Linked DNA regions of Homo sapiens. The protein of the gene in region 1 interacts with the protein of each later gene in a pairwise test. Each region holds a gene or a part of one and is shown on either strand. Other genes may lie near its edges. The genes, in order: PROS1, PPIA, SETDB1 and PRKCA.

The links.
Region 2: the proteins of PROS1 (region 1) and PPIA interact in binary tests that used the Homo sapiens proteins (3 or more experiments, as listed by UniProt).
Region 3: the proteins of PROS1 (region 1) and SETDB1 interact in binary tests that used the Homo sapiens proteins (3 or more experiments, as listed by UniProt).
Region 4: the proteins of PROS1 (region 1) and PRKCA interact in binary tests that used the Homo sapiens proteins (3 or more experiments, as listed by UniProt).

The regions. Positions count from the first base shown.
Region 1 is NC_000003.12:93,879,599-93,887,309, reverse strand, and holds part of PROS1 (vitamin K-dependent protein S isoform 2 preproprotein), read left to right. Parts: intron 1-806; coding exon 807-974; intron 975-2,413; coding exon 2,414-2,582; intron 2,583-7,711. UniProt on the Homo sapiens protein: Anticoagulant plasma protein; it is a cofactor to activated protein C in the degradation of coagulation factors Va and VIIIa. It helps to prevent coagulation and stimulating fibrinolysis.
Region 2 is NC_000007.14:44,791,677-44,800,168, forward strand, and holds the start of PPIA (peptidyl-prolyl cis-trans isomerase A), read left to right. Parts: upstream 1-5,004; 5' UTR 5,005-5,048; coding exon 5,049-5,117; intron 5,118-5,442; exon of another isoform or gene 5,443-5,945; intron 5,946-7,071; exon of another isoform or gene 7,072-7,228; intron 7,229-7,570; coding exon 7,571-7,601; intron 7,602-7,715; coding exon 7,716-7,804; intron 7,805-8,025; coding exon 8,026-8,198; intron 8,199-8,492. UniProt on the Homo sapiens protein: Catalyzes the cis-trans isomerization of proline imidic peptide bonds in oligopeptides.
Region 3 is NC_000001.11:150,929,363-150,937,073, forward strand, and holds part of SETDB1 (histone-lysine N-methyltransferase SETDB1), read left to right. Parts: intron 1-604; coding exon 605-756; intron 757-7,711. UniProt on the Homo sapiens protein: Histone methyltransferase that specifically trimethylates 'Lys-9' of histone H3. H3 'Lys-9' trimethylation represents a specific tag for epigenetic transcriptional repression by recruiting HP1 (CBX1, CBX3 and/or CBX5) proteins to methylated histones.
Region 4 is NC_000017.11:66,802,334-66,810,044, forward strand, and holds part of PRKCA (protein kinase C alpha type), read left to right. Parts: intron 1-1,539; coding exon 1,540-1,704; 3' UTR 1,705-7,711. UniProt on the Homo sapiens protein: Calcium-activated, phospholipid- and diacylglycerol (DAG)-dependent serine/threonine-protein kinase that is involved in positive and negative regulation of cell proliferation, apoptosis, differentiation, migration and adhesion, tumorigenesis, cardiac hypertrophy, angiogenesis, platelet function and inflammation, by directly phosphorylating targets such as RAF1, BCL2, CSPG4, TNNT2/CTNT, or activating signaling cascade involving MAPK1/3 (ERK1/2) and RAP1GAP.

The DNA.
Region 1 (7,711 bases):
TCACTTTTGAATTTTAAAGAAAAAATAATTTGTGTGCAATTAACAGAATAGTGAACATATTGATTTTTCTTACTTTATATTAAGAACTTATGGGCCGGGCGCGGTGGCTCACGCCTGTAATCCCAGCACTTTGGGAGGCCAAGGCGGGTGGATCATGAGGTCAGGAGATCGAGACCATCCTGGCTAACAAGGTGAAACCCCGTCTCTACTAAAAATACAAAAAATTAGCCGGGCGCAGTGGCGGGCGCCTGTAGTCCCAGCTACTCGGGAGGCTGAGGCAGGAGAATGGCGTGAACCCGGGAAGCGGAGCTTGCAGTGAGCCGAGATTGCGCCACTGCAGTCCGCAGTCTGGCCTGGGCGACAGAGCGAGACTCCGTCTCAAAAAAAAAAAAAAAAAAAGAACTTATTTACACTATTGATTCCATGTGCGTATTATCAGACAATTGCAAAATAAGGCCACTTAAATTTTTCCTAAGATAGAATGGCTCACTTAATTGTTAATTTTCTAGCAGCCTGGAATTGAAAGATATATAACTGGATGTTTAAGCTTAACAGAATAGTATTTTTTTTAACTTTAAAATATGGTATGCTTTTAATTTTTGATCGTGCTGCCACCCTAAATGCCTTTTTATCACATTTATCATAATTTGACATTCCAAATGAGTTGTAACAAATTAATAATTACATTAAAATGATTACTTTACAGAAGTATTTTATTGGAATAATAACATAAGTTTTAGATCCCAGTATTTCAAATGACATGTAGTAATACTTGGTTATTTGGTAATTTTTCTTTTTAATTGTAGGTGTCTGTGGAAGAATTAGAACATAGTATTAGCATTAAAATAGCTAAAGAAGCTGTGATGGATATAAATAAACCTGGACCCCTTTTTAAGCCGGAAAATGGATTGCTGGAAACCAAAGTATACTTTGCAGGATTCCCTCGGAAAGTGGAAAGTGAACTCATTAAACCGGTAATGATCCAAGCTTGTATCATTCATCATGGATGAGTTCCTTTTGTCTGTAATAGATTTGAATATGTGTGTTTCTGAGAATCAATAGAAGTTGTTTTGTTAAGCATACTAAGTGTGACAACTTGAAATGATCATGGAAAAATAACATTAGTAACCCTTGAAATTATATTAATGAAATAAAAAAATGACGTAGTGGTTTTGTGCCCATTTAAATCCCCAGCATAAATCATGAAGTGGATTTCTAAAATTCTCAAGTTAACACTTGAGAATGTTAACACTAATGTTAACATTAGTAATGTAATGTTCAGTGTTAACATCATGATAATCCATACTCAGTTGTTAAACATATAAATTCATATATTTAAGTCCAAAATTACACCATTTTGTAAAAGCCAGTCAAAGGACTTTCTCAAGTCTATTTTTAGGACTTAAATGCAAGAGCTAAAGAATAGCACATAAGGTGAAATTTATTGTTAAATATTTACTATCTTACATCCGTCTTTCATTCTCTGGAAATTCGTAGTTACTTTAACTTTTAAAAGATTTCCATTATATGATATTAAGCTTGAATTAATTAACCCATGTTGACATGAGTATACCTGTTGTTTGAAACTGAGAAATTAATACACTTTAAAAGTAAAATAAATTATTCAAAAAGTATCAATCATTTATGAAACGGTTATTACATGTCTTGAGCCTGGCAGGATACTTGATGGAGGCTAAAGAATGCAAACACTTTTGTGTCTGAAGAGACTTAGAGTCTGATTGGCAAGACAAACCCATATTATAAATGCCACTAAAGAAAAACAAGGCCAGGCGTGGTGGTTCACACCTGTAATCCCAGCAATTTGGGAGGCCGAGGCGGGTGGATCACCTGAGGTCAGGAGTTCAAGACCAGCCTGGCCAATGTAGCAAAACCCCATCTCTACTAAAAGTACAAAAATTAGCCAGGCGTGGTGGTGGGCACCTGTAATCCCAGCTACTCAGGAGGCTGAGGCAGGAGAATCGCTTGAACCAGGGAGGCAGAGGTTGCAGTGAGCCAAGATCCTGCCACTGCACTCCAGCAAGACTCCATCTCAATCAAACAAACAAAGAAGATAAACAAGACAACTTAGAGCCCAGGGCCACAGCTAGAAGCAAATATAGAACTTGAAAGCAGAAAAGTTACCACTGGATGATGTAGGAGAGGCAGGTGGGGCTTGAAGTGTTAAAAACCATTAAGATCCCACTGAGGGCTTGTGATAGTATGAGCTTGCTTGTACTGAAAAAGACTGTCCATCTGAAGAATACTTTGAAAAGAAAAACTTAAATAAAATTCAAAATATTTTCAACTATTATCAAAGAAAGGATTTTTTTTCTCTTAATGAAAACCTATACTCATAATCGAGCCACTGTTTAAGTTTAAAATGCACTCCTTGACTTGTATTTTAATTTGTTAGATTAACCCTCGTCTAGATGGATGTATACGAAGCTGGAATTTGATGAAGCAAGGAGCTTCTGGAATAAAGGAAATTATTCAAGAAAAACAAAATAAGCATTGCCTGGTTACTGTGGAGAAGGGCTCCTACTATCCTGGTTCTGGAATTGCTCAATTTCACATAGATTATAGTAAGTGATTTTCCATTTATCTCTATTTTCTCATTAATGAGTAAATTTATTCATTAACAAACAGTAATAATTTATTTGTGAAACATTATTGAGTATCTACTGTGTGCCCACTCTAGTCTTATGCTTATTCATACTATTATATACCTTTTACAAAAATTTTTCAGTGTATTGGGAAAAATATAAAGGCATTTGAATGTGCTTGTGTTGTTATTTCAGGTTTATCAGTACATAGCCTGATTCCTTATGGGTAAATTCAATTGACCTATTTTAAAGTTCACTGATTTCTCACTTGTATGGAGTCTATCAATGAATGCATCAGAAAGATTCATCTTCATTTCTAGCATTTCTATTTGATGCTTTCTTAAAATTTCTACCTCCCTGTTGAAATTCCCTATCTGTTCACACTTGTCTAGTTTATGTACTGAGTTTTCAATGTATTCATCATAATTATTTTAAATTCCCTGTCTCGTAGTTCCAACTGTGTCATATCTGAGTCTCGTCATTTTGTTTGCTTTGTCCCTTGACCAAGTGTTGTTTTTCTTGCATCTTTGTGTACCATGTAATTTTTGGTTTAGATTTGGGCATCTTACGTATAACAGTAGAGACTGAGATAAAGAATATTTGTGTCTGGAAATGAGCACATTTCTTTTGCTAGGCTCTTAGTAATGGGATTGAATCAATCTAGTGAAAAGTTGAGCTTCTTAAGTTTTGTTGGTGCCAGGATTACCCTTAATGCACCACAGGTTTCAGATCTTTTATTTTGTTTTGTTTTGTTTTTGAGATGGAGTCTCACTTTGTCACCCAGGCTGGGGTGCAGTGATGCAATCTTGGCTCACTGCAACCTCTGCCACCTGGATTCAAGTGATTCTTCTGCCTCAGCCTCCTGAGTAGCTAGAACTACAGGCGCCCGCCACCACGCCCGGCTAATTTTTGTATTTTTGTGTTTTTGGCCAGGCTGGTTTTGAACTGCTGATCTCATGATCCACCCCCTTGGCCTCCCAAAGTGCTGGGATTACAGGTGTGAGCCACCGCACCCAGCCTCAGATTTTCAAAATACTACCTTCTGCTTAGAATAAGGGAATGGTTTGGTAGCTAGTTTTTCTTTTTCTTTTCTTTCTTTTTTTCTTTTTTTTTGAGACTGAGTCTCACTCTGTCACCCAGGCTGGAGCTCAGTGCCACAATCTCGGCTCACCGCAACCTCCACCTTGCAGGTTCAAGTGATTCTCATGCCTCAGCCTCCTGAGTAGCTGGAATTACAAGGGTGCGCCACCATGCCCTGCTAATTTTTGTATTTTTGACGAGGTTTTGCCATGTTGGCCAGGCTGGTTTCAAACTCCTGACTTCAGGTGATCTGCTTGCCTTAGCCTCTCTAAGTGCTGGGATTACAGGCTTGAGCCACCGTGCCTGGCCTAGAGAGTTTTTCATCATAGCAGCTCAGTTTTATGTATTCCCTCCATAATACGCCTCAAGAAAATGTCTCTCCCACTTGTGTCTCTCAAGTGTCTTGCCCACCCCTAGCAGAGTGCTCTTGTTACCTGACATTTGCTAACATGGCAGAGAAGATGCGGAGGTTGGGGAAGCATTCTATGTTGTTGTCGTACAAATTCAGTCTTAGGCAGGTGTTGTATCCCTGGGTCTCAGGAGTGTGGAATTTTCACTGTTCCTCTTCCCTGACTCTCATCAGTAGGGGAGATGTCTAGTGATCAGGACTCAATATGTTTTCTTGCTCCTTCTGCATGATAGATAGCTTTTTTTGTTTGTTCTTCCTAATCTGTAGTTGCAATGAGTCTTCATATGTGTCCTAATGACAAGGTTTGCTGCCTTTCTCCTGGCTTGAAAACTTGTGTTGTGTAGAGGAGACCGAGAAGGATCTAGATGGGGCTTTGTGGCTTCCCTGTAGCTGGTGCTGCTTTCAGGACCATATTAAGAGAGAGGCTTTTTCGGATCTCCTTCCCTGCACTCTGTTTTCTCTTGAGTGCATGGTAAGGTCTGTGGAGAAGAGCCTGTGAATGAGCATGAATTGTCTTTGTGTCTGTAATTTCTAGGGCTTCTAAACTCTTACGTCAGCCCCTACATGGAGTTCAGCAATTTGTTTAAATCTTTACCTAAATTATTTTTACCAAATTGCATGGCATTTCCTGTCTGCCCTGGATTAGAAAGTGTTCTCATTCTGGCTTTCCTTGGAAACACCTGTCTTTCTTTAGGTTTCTGGTTAGTTTGTTGCTCTGCGACCTCAGCTCTTTGATAGTTTCAAGAAAAGTCATGATTATGCAGATAATTTGGCTTTTGTTGTTGTAAGGGTGGGAGTGGTGCCCTTTCCACTTTTCTACAGCCTAAGTGGAGCAGGGAATCTTGCCATACTGACCCTAGGTTTTTAACCTTAGAAGTAATACTTCTGTGAACATCCTAAATCATACATCCTTCTACCTTTATGTGATTAATTCTATGGAAGAAAATTTTAGAATTAGGTTATCTCTATCAAAGGTTATGCAAATATATAATTATTAGAGGTTCAATTACATTCTTTTCCAAAAATCTTTTATCAATTAATATTTCTACCAACAGAATGAGAAAGTGTATGCTTTAGTTTTTTTCCAATCTGATAGTTCAAAAATTAAATTTTGTAGGTTTGAATATTAATATTATTTCTCTAATTTCTACTGAACTTGAATATCCTCCCATATGTTTATTAGCTATTTATAAATTCTAATTATTTTATTGAATTCTTTGTCTTTTTCTTTTTTAGTAGTTCATTATTTGAGCTACTAACACTTTGCATTATAAATTGTTAACACTAATGTGATATCTCTGCTTTAAGAAAAAAATTACATTTTAATTGTGTTTATTTGTAACCTAAAAAGGGCGAGGTAAGGTGGCTCACACTTATAATCCCAGCACTTTAGGAGGCTGAGGCGGGCAGATCCCAAAGAGCTAGAGCCCAAGAGTTCAAGACCAGCCTTGGCAACATGGTGAAACCCTATCTTCACAAAAAATACAAAAATTAGCCAAGCCTGATGGCATGCACCTGTAGTCCCAGCTACTCAGGAGGCTGAGGTGTGAGGATGGCTTGAGCCCAATATGTTGACACAGCAGAGAGCCAGGATCTTATCACTGCACTCCAGCCTGGATGACAGAGTGTGAGCATGTCTCACAAAAAAAAAAAAAAAAAAAGTGCTTACTACATTAAAATACATTTTTAAATTTTTATGTAATTAGGAGGTACAAGTGCAGATTTCTTACATGCATATATTGTGATATATTGTGTAGTGGTGAAATCTGGGCTTTTGGTGTACACATCACCCAAATAGTGAACATGATACCCAATTGGTAATTTTTCAACCCCTACCCTCCTCCCACCCTCCCATCTTTCGTAGTCTATATTTACTACATTTGTTTGTTTGTTTTTGAGACAGGGTCTCTCTCTGTCATCCAGGCTGGAGTGCAGTGGTGCAATCATGGCTCACTGTAACCTAGACCTTCTGGGCTCAAGCAATCCTCCTGCCTCAGCCTCCCAAGTAGCTAGGACTACAGCCACATGCCACCATGCCTTGCTAATTTTTATGTTTTGCAGAGACAGGGTCTTCCCGTGTTGCCCAGGTCAGTTTTCAAATTCCTTAACTCAAGTGATACTCCTGCCTCAGCCTCCCAGTGCTGGTGTTACAGGCATGAGCCACTGTGCCCAGCCTTTTTTACTGTATTTTTAAGGACAAATTTTACAAAAATGATTTCCCTTTTTCTAACACAAATTGATACAATGCCTAGTTCTGTTCTGCCTATGAAAGATTTTTTTAAAGTTATAAATGGGGTGAGGATTAAATTAGGATAAAACTAAATCCATGGTGATTTGGCCAAAGGAAAAAAATCCTGAAAAGGTAATGAAAATAAGAGTTATATTGTATCTAAAAAAATTACTTTAATAAGTAATTAATCATTTCATGGATAATTTGTAAGTGATCTACTTTGTAATTAATATTTAATGTTACATTTTAACTTCTATACATTCGTGTGTTCATTTTAGTTTGAGTTTAATATTCTGTGTTAAATTTACTTATTTCAAGATAAATGTTTAGGTGATAGAAATTCCAATTACCCTGATTTGAGCATTACACATTGTATGCATTTATCAAATGACATATGTACCCCAAAATATGTGCAATTATGATATATCAATTAAAAATTACTTATTTCACAATGATTACATATAAACATTCTTTTTTTTTTGGAGACAGAGTCTCACTCTTTTTCCCAGGCTGGAGTGCAGTGGCGTGATCTCAGCTCACTGCAACCTCTGCCTCCTGAGTTCAAGCGATTCTCCTGAATCAAGCCTCCCGAGTTGTAGCTGGGACTACAGGTATACACCACCATGCTCGGCTAATTTTTTGTATTTTTTTTTCAGTAGAGATGTTTCACCATGTTGCCCAGGCTGGTCTCGAACTCCTGAGCTCAGGCAATTCCAAAGTGCTAGGATTACAGGCATGTGCCACCGTACCCGGTCTATATATTTTTTTTCTTCTGGATGGGAGTTACAGGATTATAATGAAAAACAGTGACATTATATGTGGCTAAGTGGAAGAACATCTTGTCAAAGGAAAATGATTTTCCTTATTCACATTTACCCTTTCAAGGGCTCCGTGTGGTATTTGGGCTTTGCTGTATGTTACATCATATTAAATGAGGAAGACTTCATTCAGATTATGAACTAATATTTTTAGTAATCCAACTATTCTGGAAACATATTAATTCAACAAATATCTATTGAGTGAGTGCTGGGGAAAACAAAGCAATGATAGAGATATATACCTCCTAGAGCTTGCATGTTAGTGGGATAGACAATTAACCTAGTAATTAAGAAAGAGAATGTGAAGGATTATGACAAGAGATTCACAAAACAAGGGTTCCTATTCTGATTTCAAAACTAACTGCTGATGTCAGTGTATTTCTCTAGTATCGAACTATCCAACTCTCCTATGTATATAGATCATATTTATCCTTTGGAGTGATGATGGCAACTGTACCCAGATTTTCCCTAAATTATTACAGTAAATTTGTTGAATTTTCAAACGTGTGCTTGGAAATATGACCACTCTGAGATTTGAGCATTGGTGAATGTGCAAGGGAGAAGGAAGCAC
Region 2 (8,492 bases), on another chromosome or scaffold:
ATGCTATATGATCAGGAGCTACAGTTGAGTTTCAGAGTTCTGCTTGCTGGCATGGAACACCTCCATCTAGCCAGAACAGGGCACTGTTGAGTTCAGCTGGATTTGCTTTTGGTCTGATTCATCCAAATAAGGCATGGACAGCTCCACATTCCTGAGGTTCTGTGTCTGCTGATATTTTCCACAGTTAGACAGTCCCACTCAACAGATAATGTCAGAAAAGGAACCCCCAGAATATCAGCTCCCCACTTAACAAACAAAACATGAACATTTGTATTCTTGAGTGTACATACCCCATGCCTGTGTAGATGAAATGACAAGAACTAGGACTTTGCTGTGACAATGCTGACGGTGACAAAAAGGCAGGACTTCAAATAGTAGCGAGAGGGAGGACAAGTCACAAGGATGTATTCATTTATTTGTTTTGAGACGAAGTCTCAGTCTGTCACCCACGCTGGAGTGCAGTGGCTCGATCTTGGCTCACTACAACCTCCACCTCCCAGGTTCAAGCGATTCCCCTGCCTTAGCCTCCTGAGCAGCTGGGACTACAGGAGCCCACCACCATACCAGGCTAATATTTGTATTTTTAGTAGAGACGGGGTTTCGCCATGTTGGCCAGGCTGGTCTTGAACTCCTGACCTCAAGTGATCCACCTGCCTCGGCCTCCCAAAGTTCTGGGATTACAGGTATGAGCCACTGTACCCAGCCGGATGTATTTATTTTTATTTTTATTTTTATTTTTGAGACAGGGTCTTGCTCTGTTACCCAGGCTGGAGTGTAGTGGCACCATCATGGCTCACTGCAGCCTCAACCTCCTGGGCTCAAGTGATCCTCCCATCTCAGCCTCCCGAGTAGCTGGGACTATAGGTATGCACCACCGTGCTTGGCTAATTTTTATTTTTAAAAATGTTTTGACCGGGCACAGTGGTTCATGCCTGTAATCCCAGCACTTTGGGAGGCTGAGGCAGGCGGATCACCTGAGGTCAGGAGTTCGAGACCAGCCTGACCAACATGATGAATCCCATCTCTACTAAAAATATAAAATTAGCTGGGCATGGTGGTGCATGCCTGTAATCCCAGCTACTTGGGAGGCTGAGGCAGGAGAATTGCTTGAAGCCAGGACGTGGAGGTTGCAGTGAGCCAAGATCACGCCATTCATTGACCTCCAGCCTGGGCTTCAAGAGTAAAACTCACTCTGTCTCAAAAAATAAATAAATAAATAAATAAATAAATAAATAAAAATAAAATAGGCCGGGCATGGTGGCTCACACCTGTAATCCCAGCACTTTGGGAGGCCGAAGTGGGTGGATCACCTGAGGTTGGGAGCTTAAGACCAGCCTGACCAACACGAGAAACCCCATCTCTACTAAAAATACAAAATTAGCCGGGAGTGATGGCGCATGCCTGTAATCCCAGCTACTTGTAAGGCTGAGGCAGGAGAATTGCTTGAACCCAGGAGGCGGAGGTTGCAGTGAGCCGAGATCAAGCCATTGCACTCCGTCAAGAGCGAAACTCTGTCTCAAACAAATAAAAATAAAAAATAAAAGAAAATACATATTTTTTTGTAGAAGCAGGGTTTCCCTCTGTTGCCCAGGCTGGTGTTGAACTCCTGGGCTCAACCGATCCTCCTGCCTTGGCCTCCCAAAGCACTGGCATTACAGGCGTGAGCCACCACGCCCAGCCTATTTATTATTCATTCATGCATTCATTTACTTTTTTTTTTTTGAGATGGAATCTCACCCCATCCCCCAGACTGGAGTGCAGTGGTGTGATCTCAGCTCACTGCAACCTCCGTCTCCCAAGCTTAAGTGATTCTCCTGCCTCAGCTTCCTGAGTAGCTGGGATTACAGATGCGCACCACCATGCCCGGCTAACTTTTGTATTTTTAGTAGAGACGGGGTTTCACCATATTTGTCAGGCTGGTCTTGAACTCCTGACCTCATGATCCACTCACCTCAGTCTCCCAAAGTGCTGGGATTACAGGCGTGAGCCACTGTGCCCAGCCCTAATTTTTGTACTTTTTAGTAGAGATGGGTTTTCCCTGTGTTGGCCAGGCTAGTCTTGAACTCCTGGCCTCAAGTGACCCACTTACCTCGGCCTCCCGAAGTGCTGCAATTACAGTGTGAGCCACCATGCCCAGCCCTGCCCAGTTAATTTTTGTATTTTTAGTAGAGATAGGGTTTCACTATGTTGTCCAAGCTGGTCTTGAACTCCTGACCTCAAATTATCCACCCGCCTCTGCCTCCCAAAGTGCTAGGATTACAGGCATGAGCCACCTCACCCGGCCTCATTCATTTACTTCTTTGGAGGAGTTCCTAACTGCTCTACGTTTTAGGATGGAGAGAGAAATGGTAAGAATTTATGCCTGAAGGCCTTGGGCATTTTTTTTCAGTGTCAGATGAGGACAAGTGGCTTTCTTAAGATCACAAAGCAAGAAGTGATGTGGAGTGGGGGGGAAAAAAGCAGTTTCCAGTTTGGCTTTGCTAACACTCATAAGCGATTACTCTGAACAAGAAGCCAGAGCTTTACTTTACGCATCTGTAAAATGGGGATAATGGGATGGTGATGAGAACAAAACAACATAGTCTAAATTTCCAACACAGGCTGAGCATGGCGGTTCACCTGTAATGCTAGAACTTTGGGAGGCCAAGGTGGGAGAATCCTTTAAGCCCTGGAGTTTGAGACCAGCCCTGATAACACAGCCAGAACCAGTTTCTGTTAAAAAAATTTAAATTAGCTGGCACAGTGGCTTGTGCCTTTAGTCCCAGACATTTGGGAGGTTGAGGAGGGAGGAATGCTTCAGTCCAAGAGTTCGAGGTTACAGTGAGCTAGGATTGCACCACTGCACTCCAGACTAACCAACAGAGTGAGACCCTATCTCAAATAAATAAATTCCTAACACGTTGGCTCATGGTTATTAACAATGGCAAGAGGCCAGAAACTGTACTTCATCTATCAGATGAATTATCATTTTTGTCTCACCACAACCCTATCCTGGTTGTGCAGATGAAGAAACTGAGTTTTAGAAACATTAAACAACGTCCAGGTGCAGCAGCTCACGCCTATAATCCCAGCACTTTTGGGAGGCTGAGGCGGGTGGATCGCTTGAGTCCAGGAGTTTGAGACCAGCCTGGGCGATGTGGCGAAACCCCATCTTTACAAAACACACACACACAAAATGAGCTGGGTGTGGGTGCATGCCTGTAGTCCCAGCTACTTGGGAGGCTAAGGTGGGACGCTTGCTCGAGCACGGGAAGGGGAGGTTGCAGTGAGCCGATAACACACCACTGCACTTCCAGCCTAGGTGAGAGTGAGACCTTGTCTCAAAAAAACAAAAAGAAACATTAAATAATATCCTTAATATTGCAACTTAAGTGACAGCCCAGGATATATGAATTCCCTTGTAAGGTTTTCTTAACAAAACACCAGTCACATAAGTGCATTTTATTTTATATTTTTGTTTATTTATTTGAGACGGAGTCTCTGTCTCTCAGGCTGGAGTGCAGTGGCGCCATCTCTGCTCGCTGCAACCTCCACCTCCTGGGTTCCAGCGATTCTCCTGCCTCAGCCTCCCGAGGGGGTAGCTGGGACTACAGGTGCGCACCACCATGCCCAGCTAATTTTGTATTTTTCGTAGAGATGGGGTTTCACCATGTTGTCCAGGCTGGTCTTGAACTCCTGACCTCAGGTGATCCTCCCGCCTCGGCCTCCCAAAGTGCTGGAATTACAGGCGTGATCCACCGCACCCGGCCTATTTTTTGAGAGAGGGTCACACTCTGTCGTCCCGGCTGGAATGCAGTGATGCGATCACCGCCCACTACAGCCTCGACCTCCGGGCTCAAGCAATCCTCCCCGCCCAGCCTCCTGAGTAGCGAGCGCCTCGACGCCCAGCTAATTTTTATTTTTATTTATTTTTTTGTAGAGACGGCGTCTCTCTAAGATGCCCAGGCTGGTGGCCGGTGTCGAACTCCTAAGATGAAGCGATCCTCCCCGGCCTTGGCCTCCGCGCCTCCTAAAGCGCCAGGTATGAGCCACCGCGCCTGGCCTACAAGTGCATTTTAATTAAAGTATTATTAATGTCTTTGCCTGAAGAAATTCGCTTTTAAATTGTGACTTATCTTTCACCCAAAAATCAAAGCACAATTCAGCCCCGAGGCGGGGGCGGTAGGAGCTGGGCGGGGCGGGGGCAGGGAAAGACCAGGAGCAGAGATTCAAAAAGAGTAAGAGGGCAAAATGTGCATAATGCATCTTCACAGGTAAGAGCCTGGCCAGGCTCCTGTTTTAATGGCTTCCTCCTGAAGAAGATTCAAGCAGAGTGTAAGATATTTTCGGAAAGTAGAGCATTTTGAAAGCATTTCATAATCTCTCAAAACCGGAGACTGCTCCTGTCCCACCTCGTTAGAGAAAACAGCGATGCTCAAAGGCAACCTCCTTCCTGACATTGCCTGGTAGGACGCGACGTGGTGTTTGCCCGCGCGGAATGCGGACGCAAGGCTGCTCCTAGGTCTCGGGGACGCGCCATCCCCATTTCCGCTCGCGGAGGCGTAGGGTCCGGGCGCGGGACCCCAGTCGACCTTGACTGGCGGCGCGACCTTGAGGCCTGCGTTCGCCTCAGTTGCCCCCTCTGTGCAATGGGGAGACGCGCCTCATCGCTTGACAACGGCCGAAGAGCCGCCGCGCTTCCGTCTCCCGCGTGCGCGCGCCATGCTGCCCACCCCCGTTCCGCACTGACCCTCCCCCGTGCCCCGCGTCCCGTACTGCCGCCCCGCCCCGAGTCCCATGCCGCAGCCACCGCGACGGAGCCCGCAGGCGGGAACCTGCCTCCGCGCGTTAGCGCGCACGCGCGCCTCATGTGTCGTCCCCATCAGCGCCGGCTTCCGTCTATAGGCCAGATGCACTGTCACTCTGGCGAAGTCGCAGACCCGATTGGCCGGGACGGAGGCGCGAGACCGGGTTGCGGGCGGGGCCGAACGTGGTATAAAAGGGGCGGGAGGCCAGGCTCGTGCCGTTTTGCAGACGCCACCGCCGAGGAAAACCGTGTACTATTAGCCATGGTCAACCCCACCGTGTTCTTCGACATTGCCGTCGACGGCGAGCCCTTGGGCCGCGTCTCCTTTGAGGTCGGGCGGGCGGCGGCGTGCGGGAATGGGGCCCAGAAAGTGGGCCGGGGTCGGGGTGGGTGGTAGCGCCCCAAAGGCCCGGGCGCGGGGCGACCCTGCTTGAGGGGCGAGCGCGGGCGGGCTGCGGCGCCATTTCCTGACGAGGGGCCATTTTGGGAGGTCCGCGAGTCGCGGGGAGGAGGCCGGGACGGCGGCGGACAAAGGCAGGCGGGGCGGCTGCGAGGCCGTTGGGGGAGGGGGCCCGCGTCCGCCCGCCCGCCTCATGTGGCCGCGCCCTGTCCTGTCCGACGCACGTGCTCGGCGGCCGCGCTCAGGTCCGCGCCTTGAGAGTCGTTGGGCTCCGCCCTAGCTTGGCCTGGGCGCCGCAGACCGGAGCCAGAAGCACGCTCGCGGGGGCTTGCGACCGCCTTCCTGGGAAGCTGTCCCCTGGCAGGCATGGGTGCTTTACATCCTGAGCTGGGAAGCTGTTTGCTTGAGGGTTTTTCTCAAGGATCGAGGCGCGGTGTGAGCCCGTCCATGCTCGGTCCTGTAGATCCCGGGAGGCCATGTTATAAAAGGAGACTTGCTGGGATGTGACGGGTTGCCACTTGAAATATCTTCCATTTGGATAAAGTAGGAATATTTATACATGTGCCCCAAACGTCCCTCCGTGTCCCCCACCCCCAAGCGGAAATGTGAAAATGGGCCTTGCCTTTGCTGGTGCCCAAGGACCGCCTTCCACTGCAGTGACGGCGCTGGCGGGGGAGGCGCTCTTGAGCCCCTCCCGATTGTCCCTCTGCCTAGCAAGCAAGTTGCGACTGGCCACAAGGCAGGCCTCTTCCGACCAAGGTGGATTACCAGTGATTACCTAATTAGTTTTGAGAGCGTTAAATGAGTTCTTAAAGATCAGTTGTAATTATAGCATAGTATCTAAACTTGGCGCGTGTCTTCAAAGTTAAATATTGAGTACGATTCCGTTCCAGTTAACATGGATAGACCTTAGGGAGTAGCGAAATAGGATGTTAGTGGTTTTATTCCTTTAAATCACATCTCAAAAGGCCACCAATGGCTAGTTTGGGATCTTATTCCGAAAATAGATTGATCCTCATGCAGTCTTCGTGAGGACAGAGCGATTTCCTTGTTGCCTACCCTGTCCATAGTGCCTGGCACATAGGCACTGAAACACTGCATGTTAATCCACACCCCACCCCACCTATGAGTGTAGTCAAAGCTGGTAAGTGACAAGGGCTTTCGTGGAAACTTGGCCTGACCTAATGTTGGGCATCAGGTTACCCAAAGAGCTTCAGGGAAATGAGAAAGGACTTGCAGGTCTTGATGAGAATGGAGGGGTAACTGCCAATGAGGGCTTTGGCTTTAGCGAAAGTCTGAAAGGGAAGCCATAGGAACTTAAACGTACCGACTATAAAGCTCTGAGAAAAGCTGATGTTTTAGAAAGACCATACATTCTAGGTACAAATACCTAAAAACTAAAAAATAAGTACGTTGGCCAGGCGGGCGGATCACGAAGTCAGGAGATTGAGACCGTCCTGGCCAACATGGTGAAACCCCACCTCTATTAAAAATACAAAAATTAGCTGGGCGTGGTGGCGCTTGCCTGTAATCTCAGCTACTCTAGAGGCTGAGGCAGGAGAATCGCTTGAACCCCGGAGGCGGAGGCTGCAGTGAGCCGAGATCGTGCCACTGCACTCCAGCCTGGTGACAGTGAGACTCTTGTCTCAAAAAAAAAAAAGTACATTGCTATAAGAGAAGTGCACACGGATACTAGTAGTTAATTCAGTCACATCTGTGAAATAGCTTATAAAATGCTACTTTTAAACAAGCTGTTTTTATGAAAGGGCTTGTAAATGTTTATGGTATTTAAGCTACCTCTCTAGCCATAACGTATTATACATTCAAGAAAGGTTCAAAACCAGATATACTAGAAACCAATCTTTATTTTTTACCCCACTACTAGGTAAGGGGCCTGGATACCAAGAAGTGACTGCTCATCTAATCCATAAAGCTATGTTAACAGATTGGAGGTAGTAGCATTTTCATTACAAGTGACTAAAAGAACAGCTGTTTACCCCTGATCGTGCAGCAGTGCTTGCTGTTCCTTAGAATTTTGCCTTGTAAGTTCTAGCTCAAGTTGGGGGGTGGTGATAGACATTTAAGAAGCCATATATCTTTTCAGAAGTAGGTGTGATGTACTAAAAGTTTGAGACACTTTCTAGAAGTCTCACTATTTAAGTTATGACTAGTATTGGATTTTTGGCATGTCTTTGGGTTTCATGTTTCTTAACCCAACTGCCTGCAGGGCCTTATGGCTGTCAGGAGCAGTTCTTGGGAATTAAAGTAATTACTGAAGAAGTATTCTAGTGAGAAAATGAATTTATGACTCAGAAGCCCCTAAAGACATGGGTACTAAGCAACAAAATAAGCAGATGTTAATTAACTGTAATTTTCTCTTACAGCTGTTTGCAGACAAGGTCCCAAAGACAGCAGGTTGGTCCATTTTCTAAGTTTAACAAAGATGTTCCAATTGTGACAGTTTGTGTGTGTGTGTGTATATATATATTTTTATGTATGTATATATGTGTTTAATTTTTTTTTAAACAGAAAATTTTCGTGCTCTGAGCACTGGAGAGAAAGGATTTGGTTATAAGGGTTCCTGCTTTCACAGAATTATTCCAGGGTTTATGTGTCAGGTACGAAATTTACTGAATTTTATTTTATTTGGGTTGCTCCCTTCATTTGGGATTGAGCCAGAATATTTCAGGATACACATATCTGAACTGTTACTCTACCATTTCGGTTCTATTTAACCCTTCTATTCAGTTTGAACTTGGGTTTAAAGTTTGAACCTTGCAGATTTGGCACACTTCATGGTTATGTTGTCAGAAGTGACATTTTTCCTATATGTTGACAGGGTGGTGACTTCACACGCCATAATGGCACTGGTGGCAAGTCCATCTATGGGGAGAAATTTGAAGATGAGAACTTCATCCTAAAGCATACGGGTCCTGGCATCTTGTCCATGGCAAATGCTGGACCCAACACAAATGGTTCCCAGTTTTTCATCTGCACTGCCAAGACTGAGTGGTAAGGGTACAACATGGCACACTAACCACCTGACTAAATGAAAAGTTGCCCTGGGGGGAACGGAACAAACACTACTTTTCTTCAACCTTTGCTTCCACAGACTTTTTCATCCCTAAGATACTAGAAGAAGAGCATACATAAACGACAAATATAGCCAATGTGATACAGAATGTCAGATACTATGATAGAAACTTGGCCCTTAGCTGGGTGGTTGAATTAGGTGCTACTTTTTTGAGATGGAGTTTTGCTCTGTTGCCAGGTTGGAGTGCAGTGGCACAATCTGGGCTCACTGCA
Region 3 (7,711 bases), on another chromosome or scaffold:
TATTTTATTTTTATTTTATTTTATTTTTTTTTTAGACAGAGACTTGCTCTGTCTCACCCAGGCTGGAGTACAGTGACGTGATCTCGGCTCACTGCAGCCTCCGCCTCCCGAGTTCAAGCAGCTCTCCTGTCTCAGCCTCCGGAGTAGCTGGGACGACAAGCGTGTGCCACCACACCCGGCTAATTTTTGTATTTTTAGTAGAGATGGAGTTTTACCATGTCGGCCAGGCTGGGGAGGTCAAATTCCTGACCTCAAGTGATCTACCTGCCTCAGCCTCCCAAATTGCTGGGATTGCAGGTGTGAGCCACCACTGCCAGCCAGGATACATTTTCAGATAACAGCAAGGTAAATAATGAGGTAAGGGTGAAAGTACTGTACTTTGGGCTTACTTTGGATTTTTGAGGAACTAGTCTGGAAACTAAACCACTATTTAAAACATTTTTCTATAGAAAAAGCATTCTAAATTCTAAACAGAGACACTTTGGAATGTGGCCCATTTAAATTGAGGACTGTCTATACTTAAATATATATACATCGTAATGGATTCTATATCTCTTAATTCCTCTACTGGCTTTGACCTTTTCTGCATGTGTTCCAATATTAGGGCAGTGACTAATTGTGAGTCTTTGGTGAAGGACTTCTACTCCAAGCTGGGACTACAATACCGGGACAGTAGCTCTGAGGACGAATCTTCCCGGCCTACAGAAATAATTGAGATTCCTGATGAAGATGATGATGTCCTCAGTATTGATTCAGGTAAGGGATGAGCTTTGGATAGGAGAGTCTCAGGACTGAAGTTGAAACACTGGAAGATGAGCAAATAGAAGATAATAGAAGAGAGGAGAAACCATTGTCACTAACTCCATATTTCTAACTGCCTGAGTTGGCTATTAAAGAAAAAAATGCAACATTGTTAGTATCATAGATGTTCCCTATGTGCTACACCCTGATTGTATTACTTTGCTTTCCTCATTCTGTGTAACCCCTATTTTGGGGTATTCCATCAAAGAGTGGAATTGCCAGGACTTATAGTGAGTGTATGTTCTGTTATTAGAATATAAAAAATACAGTTGGTTTTTGTGTATTGATCTTGTAGCCCGCAACCGCATTAAACTCACATAGTTCTAGAAGCTTTTTGTTGATTCCTTAGGATTTTCTTTTTTTTTTTTTTTTTTTTTTTTTTTGAGATGGAGTCTCGCTCTGTTGCCCAGGCTGGAGTGCAGTGGCGCAATCTCAGCTCACTGCAACCTCTGCCTCCTGGGTTCAAGCAATTCTCTGCTTCGACCTCCCAACTAGCTGGGATTACAGGCAAACCCCCTGCCCCACCACCACACCCAGCTAATTTTTGTATTTTTAGTAGAGACAGGGTTTCATCATCTTGGCCAGGCTGGTCTTGAACTCCTGACCTTGTGATCCACTTGCCTTGGCCTCCCAAAGTGCTGGGATTACAGGCATGAGCTGCTGCACCCAGCCAATTCCTTAGGTTTTTCTAAAACTAATTCATGCAAGTAAAGTCTGTTTTACTTCTTCCTTTCTACCCTGGATATCTTTCTTTTTCTTTTCTTATTGTACTCACTAAAACCTTCAGTACAGTGTTGAATAAGTTTTAAGAGCAGGCCAGATACAGTGGCTCATACCTGTAATCCCAGCACTTTGGGAGGTTGAGGTGGGAGGATCCCCTGATCCCAGGAATTTGAGACCAGCCTGGCCAACGTAGCAAGACCTCATCTCTACTAAAAATAAAAAAATTAGCCAGGCATGGTGGTGCACCCCAGTAATCCCAGCTACTTGGGAGGCTGAGGTGGAAGGATCTCTTAAGCATAGGAAGTTGAGGCTGCAGTGAGCTGTGATTGTGCCACTGCACTCCAGCCTGGGTGACAAAGCAAGACTCTTGTCTTCAAAAAAAAAAAAAAAAAAAAGGGTTTCCAGAACAGACATCCTGGCCAGGCGTGGTGGCTCACGCCTGTAATCCCAGCACTTTGGGAGGCCAAGGAGGGCGGATCATGAGGTCAGGAGATCCAGACCATCCTGGCTAACACGGTGAAACCCCATCTCTACTAAAAATACAAAAAATTAGCTGGGCGTGGCGGCGGACGCCTGTAGTCCCAGCTACTTGGGAGGCTGAGGCAGGAGAATGGCGTGAACCCAGGAGGTGGAGCTTGCAGTGAACAGAAACCACACTACTACATGTATACATATGTAACTAACCTGCACAATGTGCACATGTACCCTAAAACTTAAAGTATAATAAAAAAAAATTAAAAAATAAAAAATAAAAAAAATAAAGATAAACCAAAAAAAAAAAAAAAGAAACCACACTACTGCACTCCAGCCTGGGCGACAGAGTGAGACTCTGTCTCACCCAAAAAAAAAAAAAAAAAAAACAGACATCCTTTTCTTCTTCCTGATGTTGATATGAAAGCATTTGGTGTTTAACCATTAATTATGTTAGCAGTAGGTTTTCTATAGATGTCATTTATTAAATTAAAGGAATCCCCTTCTAATCCTAGTTTGAGAGATTTTATCATAGCCTAATTGGATTTTGGATTTTGTCAGCTTTTTCTGTATCATTCTCCTATGTTCCTTTTGTCTTTTATCATATTAAGAATGTATTACAGTAGTTGTTTTTTTAGATGTTAAACCAACCTTGCATTCCTGGAGTAAACCAGCCTTGGTCTTGATGTATAATTCTTTTTATATGTTGCTGGATTGGATTTGCTGATTTAAAAAAAAAAGATCTTGGCTGGATGCTGTGACTCATGCCTGAAATCCCAGCACCTTGGGAGGCCGAGTTGGGCAGATTGCTTGAGCCCAGGAGTTCAAGACTAGCCTGGGCAACATGGTGAAACCCCTTCTCTAATTTTTTTTTTTTTAAAAAAAAAGAAAGAAAAAAATTTTTACATCTGTTTCATGAGGGCTATTGGTTTATAGTTCTGTTGTGGTGTCCTTGTTTGGCTTTGGTAGCAGGGTAATATAGGCCTTGTAAATGAGTTGAGAAGTGTTCCCTCCTCTGAGTTTGTATGGAATGATATTTCTTCCTAAAAAGTTTGATAAATTCAGTGCTGAGGCCATTTAGGCTTGGACTTTTCTTTGTGGATTTTTAAAATCTTTTATTTTGGAATAATTTTAGATTTATAGAAAAATTGAAAAAGTAATAGAGTTCCTATATATCCCTCATCTAGTACATATGTCAAAACTAAGAAGCAAACACTGGTATATTACTTTTATATAAACTTCAGGCTTTATTCAGCTTCTGGACTTTTTCTGTTCCATGATCTAATCCAGGATATCACATTAAATATATTTCCAGTGTGATGTTTATTTTCTTCCTTTTACTTACTGGGTTTGATTTGTTCTTCTTTTTCTAGCCTCTCAAAGTGGAAGCTTACAGGATTGATTTTAGACCTTTCTTCCTTTCTAATATAAGCTCTAAAGCTATTTATTTCCCCGTAAGCATTGCTTTGCTGCATCTCATAAATTTTTTTCCATACAGTGTCACTCTCAGGATATCATACTTTTTTTATGTTGTGTTTTCAGCTTCATTAAACTTGGCATCATTTTTAATTTTCCTTGTGGTTGTTTGATTTCTAAATATTTGGGGTTTTTTTGATATCTTTCTGTTGTTAATTTTTAATTAATTTTATTGTGTTCAGAGAATATACTTTGTATAATTTTAGTCTTTTTGAATGAATGAATGAATGAATGAATTGATTGATTGACAAGGTCTCACTCTGTTCCCCAGGCTGGAGTGTGATAGCATGATCATAGTTCACTGCAGCCTCAACCTCCTGGGCTCAAGTGATCCTCCCACGTCAGCCTCCTGAGTAGCTGGAACTAAAAGTACATGCCGCCACGCCCAGCTAACTTTTTTTTTTGTAGTAGAGATAAGGTCTCACTATGTTGCCCAGGCTGGTCTCGAACTCCTGAGCTCAGGCAATCCTCCTGCCTTGGCCTCCCAAGGTGCTGGGATTATAGGCCTTAGCTACCATGCCTGGCCTATTTTGTCTTTTTTTTTTTTTTTTTGAGACAGTCTTGCTCCATTGCCCTGGCTGAAGTGCAGTGGCATGATCTCACTGCAACTTCTGCTCACTGCAACCTTTGCCTCCTGGGTTCAAGCAATTCTCCTGTCTCAGCTTCCTGAGTAGCTGGGACCACAGGCACGCGCCATCACACCCAGCTAATTTTTGTACTTTTAGTAGAGACAGGATTTCTCTGTGTTGGCCAGTCTTGTCTTAAACTTCTGACCTTAGGTGATCTGTCCACCTAAGCCTCTCAAAGTGCTAGAATTACAGGCGTGAGCCACTGTGCCTAGCCCTATTTCTTCTTTGTTGCCTTCTTAAAGTCAAACAAACATTTCAGAAAACCACTGTCATTCTTCTGATTTTTCTTTTTCTTTTTCTTTTTCTTTTTCTTTTTCTTTTTTTTTTTTTTTTTTTTGAGATGGAGTTTTCGCTCTTGTTGTCTAGGCTGGAGTGCAATGGCAGGATCTCTGCTCACTGCAACCTCCGCCTCTTGGGTTCAAGCGATTCTCCTGCCTCAGCCTCCTAAGTAGCTGGGATTACAGGCATGCACCACCATGCCTGGCTAATTTTGTATTTTTAGTAGAGACAGGGTTTCTCCATGTTGGTCAGATTGATCTCAAGCTCCCAACCTCAGGTGATCCACCTGCTTCGGCTTCCCAAAGTGCTAGGATTACAGGAGTGAGCCACCACACCCGGCCCCTGATTTTTCTTTTTTTTAGCTTTCATAAAAGGGGTTGCATCTGTACCTAATCATAATCTATTACAAATTAATACTGACTTAATTCTGGTAAAAATACAGCCATTTTGGCTGGGCGCGGTGGCTGACGCCTGTAATCCCAGCACTTTGGGAGGCCGAGACGGGCAGATCACGAGGTCAGGAGATCGAAACCATCCCGGCTAACACGGTGAAACCCCGTCTCTACTAAAAATACAAAAAAATTAGCTGGGCGTAGTGGCGGGCACCTGTAGTCCCAGCTACTTGGGAGGCTGAGGCAGGAGAATGGCGTGAACCTGGGAGGCGGAGCTTGCAGTGAGCCAAGATCGCACCGCTGCACTCCAGCCTGGGCGACAGAGCGAGACTCCATCTCAAAAAATATATATATATACACAGCCACTTTGCACCAGCATACTTCTACTTTCACTCTCTTCCTGTGTGATACTATTGTCAAATATATTATAGCTACATGTTTAAAGCCAATAATCTAGTGTTATAATTACTGCTTTAAGCAGTCTCATGTTTAAAGAAGGTAAGGGAAGAAAAGAAAAATATGTATTTACCCAGATATTTATCACTTCTGTTGCTCTTCATTCCTTCCTGTGGATCTGAGTTATCATCCAGTGTCATGTTTTTCCAGCCAGACGGTTTCCTTTAATATTTCTTGCAGTACAGTTCTGCTGACAGTGGATTCCCTCAATCTTCGTTTACCCAGGATATAGAATTTTTTTTTTTTTTTGTGACAGAGCTTTATTCTTGTTGCCCAGGCTGGAGTGCAGTGGTGAGATCTCAGCTCACTGCATCCTCCACCTTCCAGGTTCAAGCAATTCTCCTGCCTCAGCCTCCCAAGTAGTTGGGACTACAGGTGTGCACCACCACGCCCGGCTAATTTTGTCTTTTTAGTAGAGACAGGGTTTCGTCATGTAGTTCAGGCTGGTCTCAAACTCCTGGCCTCAGGTGATCCACACGCCTTGGCCTCCCAAAGTACTGGGATTACAGGCGTGAGCCACTGTGCCCGGCCCTACCTGGGATATAGAATTCTTGATTGACAGAGTTTTCTTTCAGTACTTCAAATACGCCATCCCTGTGCCCTCTGGCCTCTATTATTTTTGATGGAAAGTCAGAGGAAATTATTTTTGTATCATGTATATGAGTCAGTTTTGTCTTGCTGGTTTTAAGGTTTTCTTTTTGTCTTCTGGTGTTAGTTTGACTGGGATGTATCCAAGTTCTTTCTTAATCCTACTTGAGGTCCATTTAACTTCTTGGGTATGTAGATTCAAGTTTTTCACCAAATTTGGAAGTATTTCATCTGTTATTTCTTCATGGTTTTTTTTTTCTGTTCCCTTTTGTCTCTCCCTGCTTTCTGGGATTTCCATTACATATATGGTGGAATGCTTGACATTCATCTTTTCACAAGTCTCTGAAGCTTTGTTCATTTTTCTTCAATTTTCTCTCTGTGCTTTGGATTGGATAATTTCTCTATATGGGTATCTATATATTCTAGTTCATTGACTCCTGTTGTGACTCTGCCACTTAGCCCCTCTAATATGTATTTCATTTCAGTTTTTGCATTTTCAACTCTGGAATTTCTATTTGGTTCCTTATTTCATAGTTTCAGTTTCTCTTGAGATTCTCTTGTTGATTAAGTATTAGTATATTTTCATTTAACCTTTTAACTTAATTTCCTATCGTTCTTTGAGCATATTTATAAATCCAGTATCTGGGATCACTGAGAGTCAGTTTTATTGACAGGGTTTTTTGTCTTGAGTGTAGGTCACACTTTCATGTTTCTTTGCATGTCTCTTATCTTTTTGTTGAATATTGACTTTTAGATAATCTAGCAACTCTGAGTTTTAATTTATTTTCCTGAGAGTTCCATATCCTAGTTATTCTTTTCTTTTTTTTGAGACGGAGTCTCGCTCTGTCGCCCAGGCTGGAGTGCAATGGCGCAATCTCGGCTCACTGCAAGCTCCACTTCCCGGTTTCACACCATTCTCCTGCCTCAGCCTCCCGAGTAGCTGGGACTACAGGTGCCCGCCACCATGCCTGGCTAATTTTTTTCTATTTTTTTAGTAGAGACAGGGTTTCACCATGTTAGCCAGGATGGTCTCGATCTCCTGACCTCGTAATCTGCCCGTCTCGGCCTCCCAAAGTGCTGGGATTACAGGCGTGAGCCACCCTGTAGGCCTCTGTTCAGTTTTTTTATTTTAACTTTTAATTTTTTAGCTTGGCTTCCAAGTATTGACTTTTTTATTTCTATTTTTTGGAATAGTTTAGCTAGTGAGGCGAATGCATTCAGAGTTACATTTAGTTCTGACGTCTCCCTTGGCTTTGACTTCTTCAACATTGTGTTGATGCATGATGATTAGCTTATTTGCTTTTTGCAGCATGGTATTCCATTGTATGAATATGCCACAGTTTATCAGTTTTCCTGATTGTGGACATTGATTTACATTTTTTGAGATTACAGATAACACTACTGCAAATATTCTTGTACATGTCTCCTGATGCACATGTGCAGGAGTCTTTTTAGTGTATATACTGTAAGAGAGTCACTAGTTCTTAGGATATAGAAACCTCAACTTTATTTGATATATATTTTTTTAGACAGTATCTCACTCTGTAACCCAGGCTGGAGCACAGTAGTGCTATCATAGCTCACTTCGACTTCAGCCTCCCAAGTAGCTGAGACTACAGGCAAGTGCCACCACGCCTGCCTGATTTAAAAAAAAAAAAATTTGTAGGTTGCTCACAGTGGCTCACACCTGTAATCTCAGCACTTTGGGAGGCCGAGGCGGGTGGATCGCCTGAGGTCAGGAGTTCGAGACCAGCCTGGCCAGTATGGCGAAATCCCATCTCTACTAAAAATACAAAAATTAGCTGGGTATGGTGGTGGGTGCCTGTAATCCCAGCTACTGGGGAGGCAGCGGCACAAGAATTGCTTGAACCCGGGAGGCGGAGGTTGCTGTGAGCC
Region 4 (7,711 bases), on another chromosome or scaffold:
TTGATGAAAAGTAGGTGGGAAAAGGGTAATGAAAGTAGCTTCGTCGCTGGGCGTGGTGGCTCATGCCTGTAATCCCAGCTACTCGGGAGGCTGAGGCAGGAGAATCACTTGAACCCAGGAGGCAGAGGTTACAGTGAGCCGAGGTCACGCCACTGCACTCTAGTCTGGGCGACAGAGCAAGACTCCATCTCAAAAAAAAAAACGAAAGTAGGTTCTCAAGCACACCTCCTAGAAGATAAAGTGTGAAAAAAGAGCTGAGAAAGCACAGCCCGTGAGACTCAACTGCCTTATAAAAACACTAGCAGCACGTGCTGGCCTCTCGCCTCGGCTGGGTTCTGTGCAAAACCCCATACATTTCACCTTCCTGACAGCCTTGGGCAGGAGGTGTGATTGTTCTCCCAGTGTTACAGATGAGCAAACTTGGTGGACCCCACTTCACAGTTAATCCAGAGCTATTCTCTGTTAGAGACCCAAGGATGCCTGGTTAGTTTGAAATGTGTGCTAGCTCAGAGTTAATTCATATTGGCCCTGTGGTGCTAGCAGCAGGTCCAAGGGCAGTAATTGGCAGCATCTTGAAAATCATTCTTAGGATCCTTAGTGAAACTCCCAGCTCTTCCTGCTTCAGAGTCACCCTGGGCTCCCGGGGACTTCAACACGCCACTACCCTTGTGGGTGGCTGACAAGGTGAAGAGAACACTCCTTCCCCACTTTTGGGGTCAGGCTACCAAGCCGTGCTGCCTAAGCGGCTGTGTGTCTCAGCGACCCCAGTGCAACAGTTCTGCCTGGAGTGGACCCTGGAGGAGAGGAACAGCCGAGACAGCAGGCCTCTCCCTGCCTCCCCAGGGCGCCATGCAAACATCCTCCAGCCTGAGACCACCCTGCAAATAAGCTCCAGTCAGTCACCCAGCCTGCCCGCTGGCCAGCTCTGTCTAGGTGTGCTAAATCCTAGCTGGGCCAGGTGCAAATCTCCCAGCCTTGCCGCCACACCTACCTCATATCGCTTGAAGCTTAATTTAGGGGCTGGGGTTGCTGGAGCAGCCCAGTAGGAAGGCAAGGATAACACAGTTTTTACTTCACTACAAATATTGCGGCAAAAAAACAGATGTGGGGCAGTAACTCACCCCGTCGCTTGGTCCAGGGGTAACTGCCTGCAGCCCCAGCCGACATCCTGGCCTTTCAACACGGAGCTGTGACTGACGGCCCTGCGTGCGTGGCTTCCGTGCTCTCAGCTCCGCTTGCTCGGTGAGGTGGACGTGAGGGGACAGGGGCTGTCCCCTTGTTGCTGCCTCATTGCCAGCCGTGCAATTCCCACCCAGGGCTTCTGTTCGGGGTGTTTCAGGGTTTACAGTTGGGTAACTCGTTGTTGTCTGCTGTGCCTGGCTTTTCAATCCAATAGGCCTGCAAGTCCTCCGAGATTCCTCCTCCTAACCAGCCCGGAGTTCCCCAGGGCCGTGCCCCTCCCCAGAGAGGGCCCTCGGAGAGCTGCTCCCGCATTGTCATGTTGACTGACCTTTCCTTCTTTTTGTCTTTTCTCCACAGTGTGGCAAAGGAGCAGAGAACTTTGACAAGTTCTTCACACGAGGACAGCCCGTCTTAACACCACCTGATCAGCTGGTTATTGCTAACATAGACCAGTCTGATTTTGAAGGGTTCTCGTATGTCAACCCCCAGTTTGTGCACCCCATCTTACAGAGTGCAGTATGAAACTCACCAGCGAGAACAAACACCTCCCCAGCCCCCAGCCCTCCCCGCAGTGGGAAGTGAATCCTTAACCCTAAAATTTTAAGGCCACGGCCTTGTGTCTGATTCCATATGGAGGCCTGAAAATTGTAGGGTTATTAGTCCAAATGTGATCAACTGTTCAGGGTCTCTCTCTTACAACCAAGAACATTATCTTAGTGGAAGATGGTACGTCATGCTCAGTGTCCAGTTTAATTCTGTAGAAGTTACGTCTGGCTCTAGGTTAACCCTTCCTAGAAAGCAAGCAGACTGTTGCCCCATTTTGGGTACAATTTGATATACTTTCCATACCCTCCATCTGTGGATTTTTCAGCATTGGAATCCCCCAACCAGAGATGTTAAAGTGAGCCTGTCCCAGGAAACATCTCCACCCAAGACGTCTTTGGAATCCAAGAACAGGAAGCCAAGAGAGTGAGCAGGGAGGGATTGGGGGTGGGGGAGGCCTCAAAATACCGACTGCGTCCATTCTCTGCCTCCATGGAAACAGCCCCTAGAATCTGAAAGGCCGGGATAAACCTAATCACTGTTCCCAAACATTGACAAATCCTAACCCAACCATGGTCCAGCAGTTACCAGTTTAAACAAAAAAACCTCAGATGAGTGTTGGGTGAATCTGTCATCTGGTACCCTCCTTGGTTGATAACTGTCTTGATACTTTTCATTCTTTGTAAGAGGCCAAATCGTCTAAGGACGTTGCTGAACAAGCGTGTGAAATCATTTCAGATCAAGGATAAGCCAGTGTGTACATATGTTCATTTTAATCTCTGGGAGATTATTTTTCCATCCAGGGTGCCATCAGTAATCATGCCACTACTCACCAGTGTTGTTCACCAACACCCACCCCCACACACACCAACATTTTGCTGCCTACCTTGTTATCCTTCTCAAGAAGCTGAAGTGTACGCCCTCTCCCCTTTTGTGCTTATTTATTTAATAGGCTGCAGTGTCGCTTATGAAAGTACGATGTACAGTAACTTAATGGAAGTGCTGACTCTAGCATCAGCCTCTACCGATTGATTTTCCTCCCTTCTCTAGCCCTGGATGTCCACTTAGGGATAAAAAGAATATGGTTTTGGTTCCCATTTCTAGTTCACGTTGAATGACAGGCCTGGAGCTGTAGAATCAGGAAACCCGGATGCCTAACAGCTCAAAGATGTTTTGTTAATAGAAGGATTTTAATACGTTTTGCAAATGCATCATGCAATGAATTTTGCATGTTTATAATAAACCTTAATAACAAGTGAATCTATATTATTGATATAATCGTATCAAGTATAAAGAGAGTATTATAATAATTTTATAAGACACAATTGTGCTCTATTTGTGCAGGTTCTTGTTTCTAATCCTCTTTTCTAATTAAGTTTTAGCTGAATCCCTTGCTTCTGTGCTTTCCCTCCCTGCACATGGGCACTGTATCAGATAGATTACTTTTTAAATGTAGATAAAATTTCAAAAATGAATGGCTAGTTTACGTGATAGATTAGGCTCTTACTACATATGTGTGTGTATATATATGTATTTGATTCTACCTGCAAACAAATTTTTATTGGTGAGGACTATTTTTGAGCTGACACTCCCTCTTAGTTTCTTCATGTCACCTTTCGTCCTGGTTCCTCCGCCACTCTTCCTCTTGGGGACAACAGGAAGTGTCTGATTCCAGTCTGCCTAGTACGTTGGTACACACGTGGCATTGCCGCAGCACCTGGGCTGACCTTTGTGTGTGCGTGTGTGTGTGTTTCCTTCTTCCCTTCAGCCTGTGACTGTTGCTGACTCCAGGGGTGGGAGGGATGGGGAGACTCCCCTCTTGCTGTGTGTACTGGACACGCAGGAAGCATGCTGTCTTGCTGCCTCTGCAACGACCTGTCGTTTGCTCCAGCATGCACAAACTTCGTGAGACCAACACAGCCGTGCCCTGCAGGCACCAGCACGTGCTTTTCAGAGGCTGCGGACTTTCTTCCAGCCATTGTGGCATTGGCCTTTCCAGTCTTGGGAGGAGCGCGCTGCTTTGGTGAGACACCCCCATGCAAGGTCCTCAGAGTAGCCGGGTTCTACCACAAACAGAAACAGAATGAAAGTAGCTGTCAGTCCTTGTAGAGAGCCGCTCTGTTTCCTCCCAGAAGCATCTCCCAGCTAAGCTCGCATTATTTTTCTCCTCTGGCTGTTTGCCTGAAGTTCACAGAACACACAACCATGAAAGGCTTTTTGAGGTGAGAGGCCCAGGTGGTCCTGGCAACCCTGAGTAGAAGGAGAGACGGGGTAGGGAACGGGCCCGGCCAGAAAAGAACCATTTCTTCTGCCATCTTTTATGCACCATAGACATCGAGACTCCAGGGGGTCCTGGCTCCCCTGTCCCTGCAGCCCTGCAGGTCAGTGCATGATCTGGGTTCGTGTCCTGACCAGGTGCTCCTCCTTTGATCCGAGGGGAAAGGGACTGGTTTATAGAAAGAGCCTAGGAGACAAAAGGGCCAGTCCCCCTGCCCAGAATGGAGCAGCAGCAGGACAGACCCCCACGAGGCCCCCCAGAGAGGAGGAAGATCCCACGGAGGAACACATGAGGTTAGGGACCCTTGTTCAGCACCCCAAACAGCCTGCCTGTTTAAAGCAGGCAGCAGGCTTAGGCCTTCCCTGCAACCCCAACACCCACAAGTTTGTTTCTCTAGGAAACACATTCACTGTCTCAGCTGGCTGTTACTCTCTCAGACCATATGGCAAAGTTTTCCAAGAAAATGCCCCGACAGGGGTGCCCAGCACACTGCCTGAGGGACAACAGACATCAGAACAAACCCCCAGAGAGAAACAGTCAAAATCAGGGCCCGGTGCAGTGTTGTCATGTGGAACCTGCTTTATCCATTGCTGAGTGTTGAATGTGGGTAATGGTTAGGGCTTTCCAGATCTCAGCAGCCAAAGACAGTTATTGTTGGAAGACTGTCATGTAGATAACCATGAGCAATGGCTCGCCTCAGAATCAGTTCATAAAATTCTATGGTACTGGCCCCTTCGTGGGTATTGTGTGAAATGAGATGGTGGCGAGGGGTGCGCTGTGGAACTGCCGCAGCCACGCAGGAGGTCCCTGGGGGATGCTTTGGGAAGTCCTTGCCCCTGAGCACTGCCTGATTGCCAGGGCCTGTGGAGGTCTAGGCCGCCTGGCAGAATCTAGCACCGTCCGAATCCCCGCAGGACCCATGGAGCTATGACCACACCAGGCCATTCAAATGGCTCTGCATTATCTTCCCTTGGAAGGTGGCCACTCCTCGGTGGCAGGGCCTTTCCCTGAGGCTGCAGGCCGTGGGCTGGCAGCCCGTCTCTTGGCATTTCAATTGAAGGTCACCAGGTGCTGGGTTTGAAAGGAAGTCACTGGAGTGCTGCCAGGGGCCGCCCTCCAAGGTTAATGAGAGGCCCACATCCAGGCAAGAACTAATTCAAAAGGCAGATCAGAAACCACAGGAGTCAAAATTATTGCTCCGGCAGTGCTTCCCTTCCTTTCATCCACTGGCCTCGTGTGGTCCATGCAGGGCCACTGTCTGCCCTTTCTGATGCCACGTATTAGGCTTTCTTACTCAGAATTTTGATAGAAAACCATGGGGCCAAGAGCTCTGGAAGCCTGGCCGGAAAGACCAAGGTTCATGCAGCCCAACAAATGATTGTTGAGCACCTCTCGGAGCCAAAGTCCTTAGGCGAGTGTGGTGACTTCCTGGAAGGAGGATGCAGACTTCCAGAGAGCCCCCCCAACGGACGTGCTGAGAAGGGAGAGGGAGGCGGGGGCTGTAGTCAGGAAGGAGCCAGAGAAGAACAGGGTTTGGGTGCATCCAGAAATATGCCTGCAGTAGGAGGGAGAGGAAGGGGTGCCACCGTCAACGGCTTCCCATCGGAGGTGGTTGGTGCAGATGGAAGTTTCTGTCTGCTGGCCCTCAAGAGAGTGTTTTGCCAGGGACACAGTCTGTTCCTCCTCAGAAAACACCCCCCAAATGCTAACAACATCCCCACCAGCTGCTAGAAGCCCCTTTCCCCTCCCCACCTTGAAGTAGCTCATAGTTCTCTGGGCAGAGCCAGACCATCCAGTGTACCCCAGAGGCCAGTAGGTTCCTGCCCATTTTCCTCTCTGGCTTCCTGCCAAGAATTATGGCAGCTGAGGATGAATGGAGAAGTAAAAACAACTAACACCGCACAACTAACAACTAACACCGCAGTTCCCACCTGGGTTCCACTTAGCAGGAGACATTTCGGAGGGTTTTTTTTGTTTTTGTTCCTGTTTTTTTTTTTTTTGCTGGAATTTGTTTTCTCAGTACTGAAAAGAGAAAAAGTGACAATCTTGTATTTTTAAAAGCCTCGGAAAGGTGATACCATCTGACAGTCATTTTCTCACGTTGGTCTTCTAAAGTCACCTATTTCTTGTGTGTGCACATCACACCATTTCCTGTTTCTTTATAACCCGACAAGGGTAGGAGTGCCTGTTTCCCCTGCTGGGCACACCAGACAATCGTAATCACAAAACAGACACTGAGCCAGGGGCCCAAAGGGTGTGATCATGAGAGTTACCGGGACAGCAGTAGGCATGACAGTCACCAGGAAGGACAAGGGTGCTCTGTTGTTAGTGGCCACACACCAATTTGACAAGGAGTGTTGCGAAATTTTTATTTATTTATTTATTTATTTTGAGATGGAGTTTCACTCTTGTTGCCCAGGCTGGAGTGCGGTGGTACAATCTCGGCTCACTGCAACCTCCACCTCCCAGGTTCAAGCGATTCTCCTGCCTCAGCCTCCCAAGTACCTGGGACTACAGGTGCGTGCCACCACACCCAGCTAAATTTTGTGTTTTTAGTAGAGATGGGGTTTCACCATGTTGGCCAGGATGGTCTTGAACCCCTGACCTCATGATCTGCCTGCCTCGGCCTCCCAAAGTGCTGGGATTACAGGCATGAGCCACCACGCCCAGCCAAAATATTTTTTTAAAGTCATTTTCCTTAAGCTGCTTGGGCTACATGTGAAATACACTGGACGGTCAACATTCCTGTCTCCTCCCATTTGGGCTGATGCAGCAGATCCAGGGAATGTTACCTGTTTCTGCTGCTAGAAGATCCAGGAAATTGGGAAGGTTACCTGACGCACACATGGATGAAGGCCATCATCTAGAAATGGGGTCAACCACAATTGTGTTAATTCCGTAGTGTCAGGGATTCTTCGGGAAGGTCAACAGTATGAAGGATTCTGACCCCTGTGCCTCCCATTTATGTGATCAGGTGACAGTTAATAACCGTGGAGGTCACACTCAGCCATCCAACAGCCTTACAGTGACCCTACACAAAAGCCCCCAAATTCCAAAGACTTTTTCTTAACCTAAAGGAAGAAATTATTTGTTAATTCCAGTAGAGCAACTGAATATACTGGGCTATTTGTACTTTTTTATAGAGAACTTTAATAATAATTCTTTAAAAATGAGTTTTTAGAACAAAGCAACTGACGATTTCCTAAGATTCCAATGCCCTGGAGCTTGTAGGAGGACTTAGCCTGGGTCAGCTGGAGCACCCCCGACCTGATCTCCCACTGCCAGATTTTCCCATGCTCCTAGGGTATGGAGTCCACGTGGGAATGACTGCAAGTTCAGGTGGAACTTGGCCGACTGATGCTCTGCGAGTTTTTAATAGACACTGGGGACAACTGCTTAAGGTTTAGAAACTTCCAAACCACAGGAAAGACATTTTTAGTGTCCCCCATCCAGAGGCAGCCCTGGAATAGGATTCCCAGGGGTTTCTGGGACCCCTTTCCTTGCTCCGTGAGGCTCTGTGGCCATCTTTTGGCAGGAGGAGGATGCTTCCTTGGCTCTGTGCCCAGACCCGCCTGGTCCCCAGGTCTCTCACCTTGGGTGAAGATTCAGAGATGCCCTGTAAGGATTTTGCCCACTGGGCAACTCAGAAATACTTCGATCTCCCAAGATATAAGAGGCAGCAGCAAACGTGCCTATTGACGTCTGTTT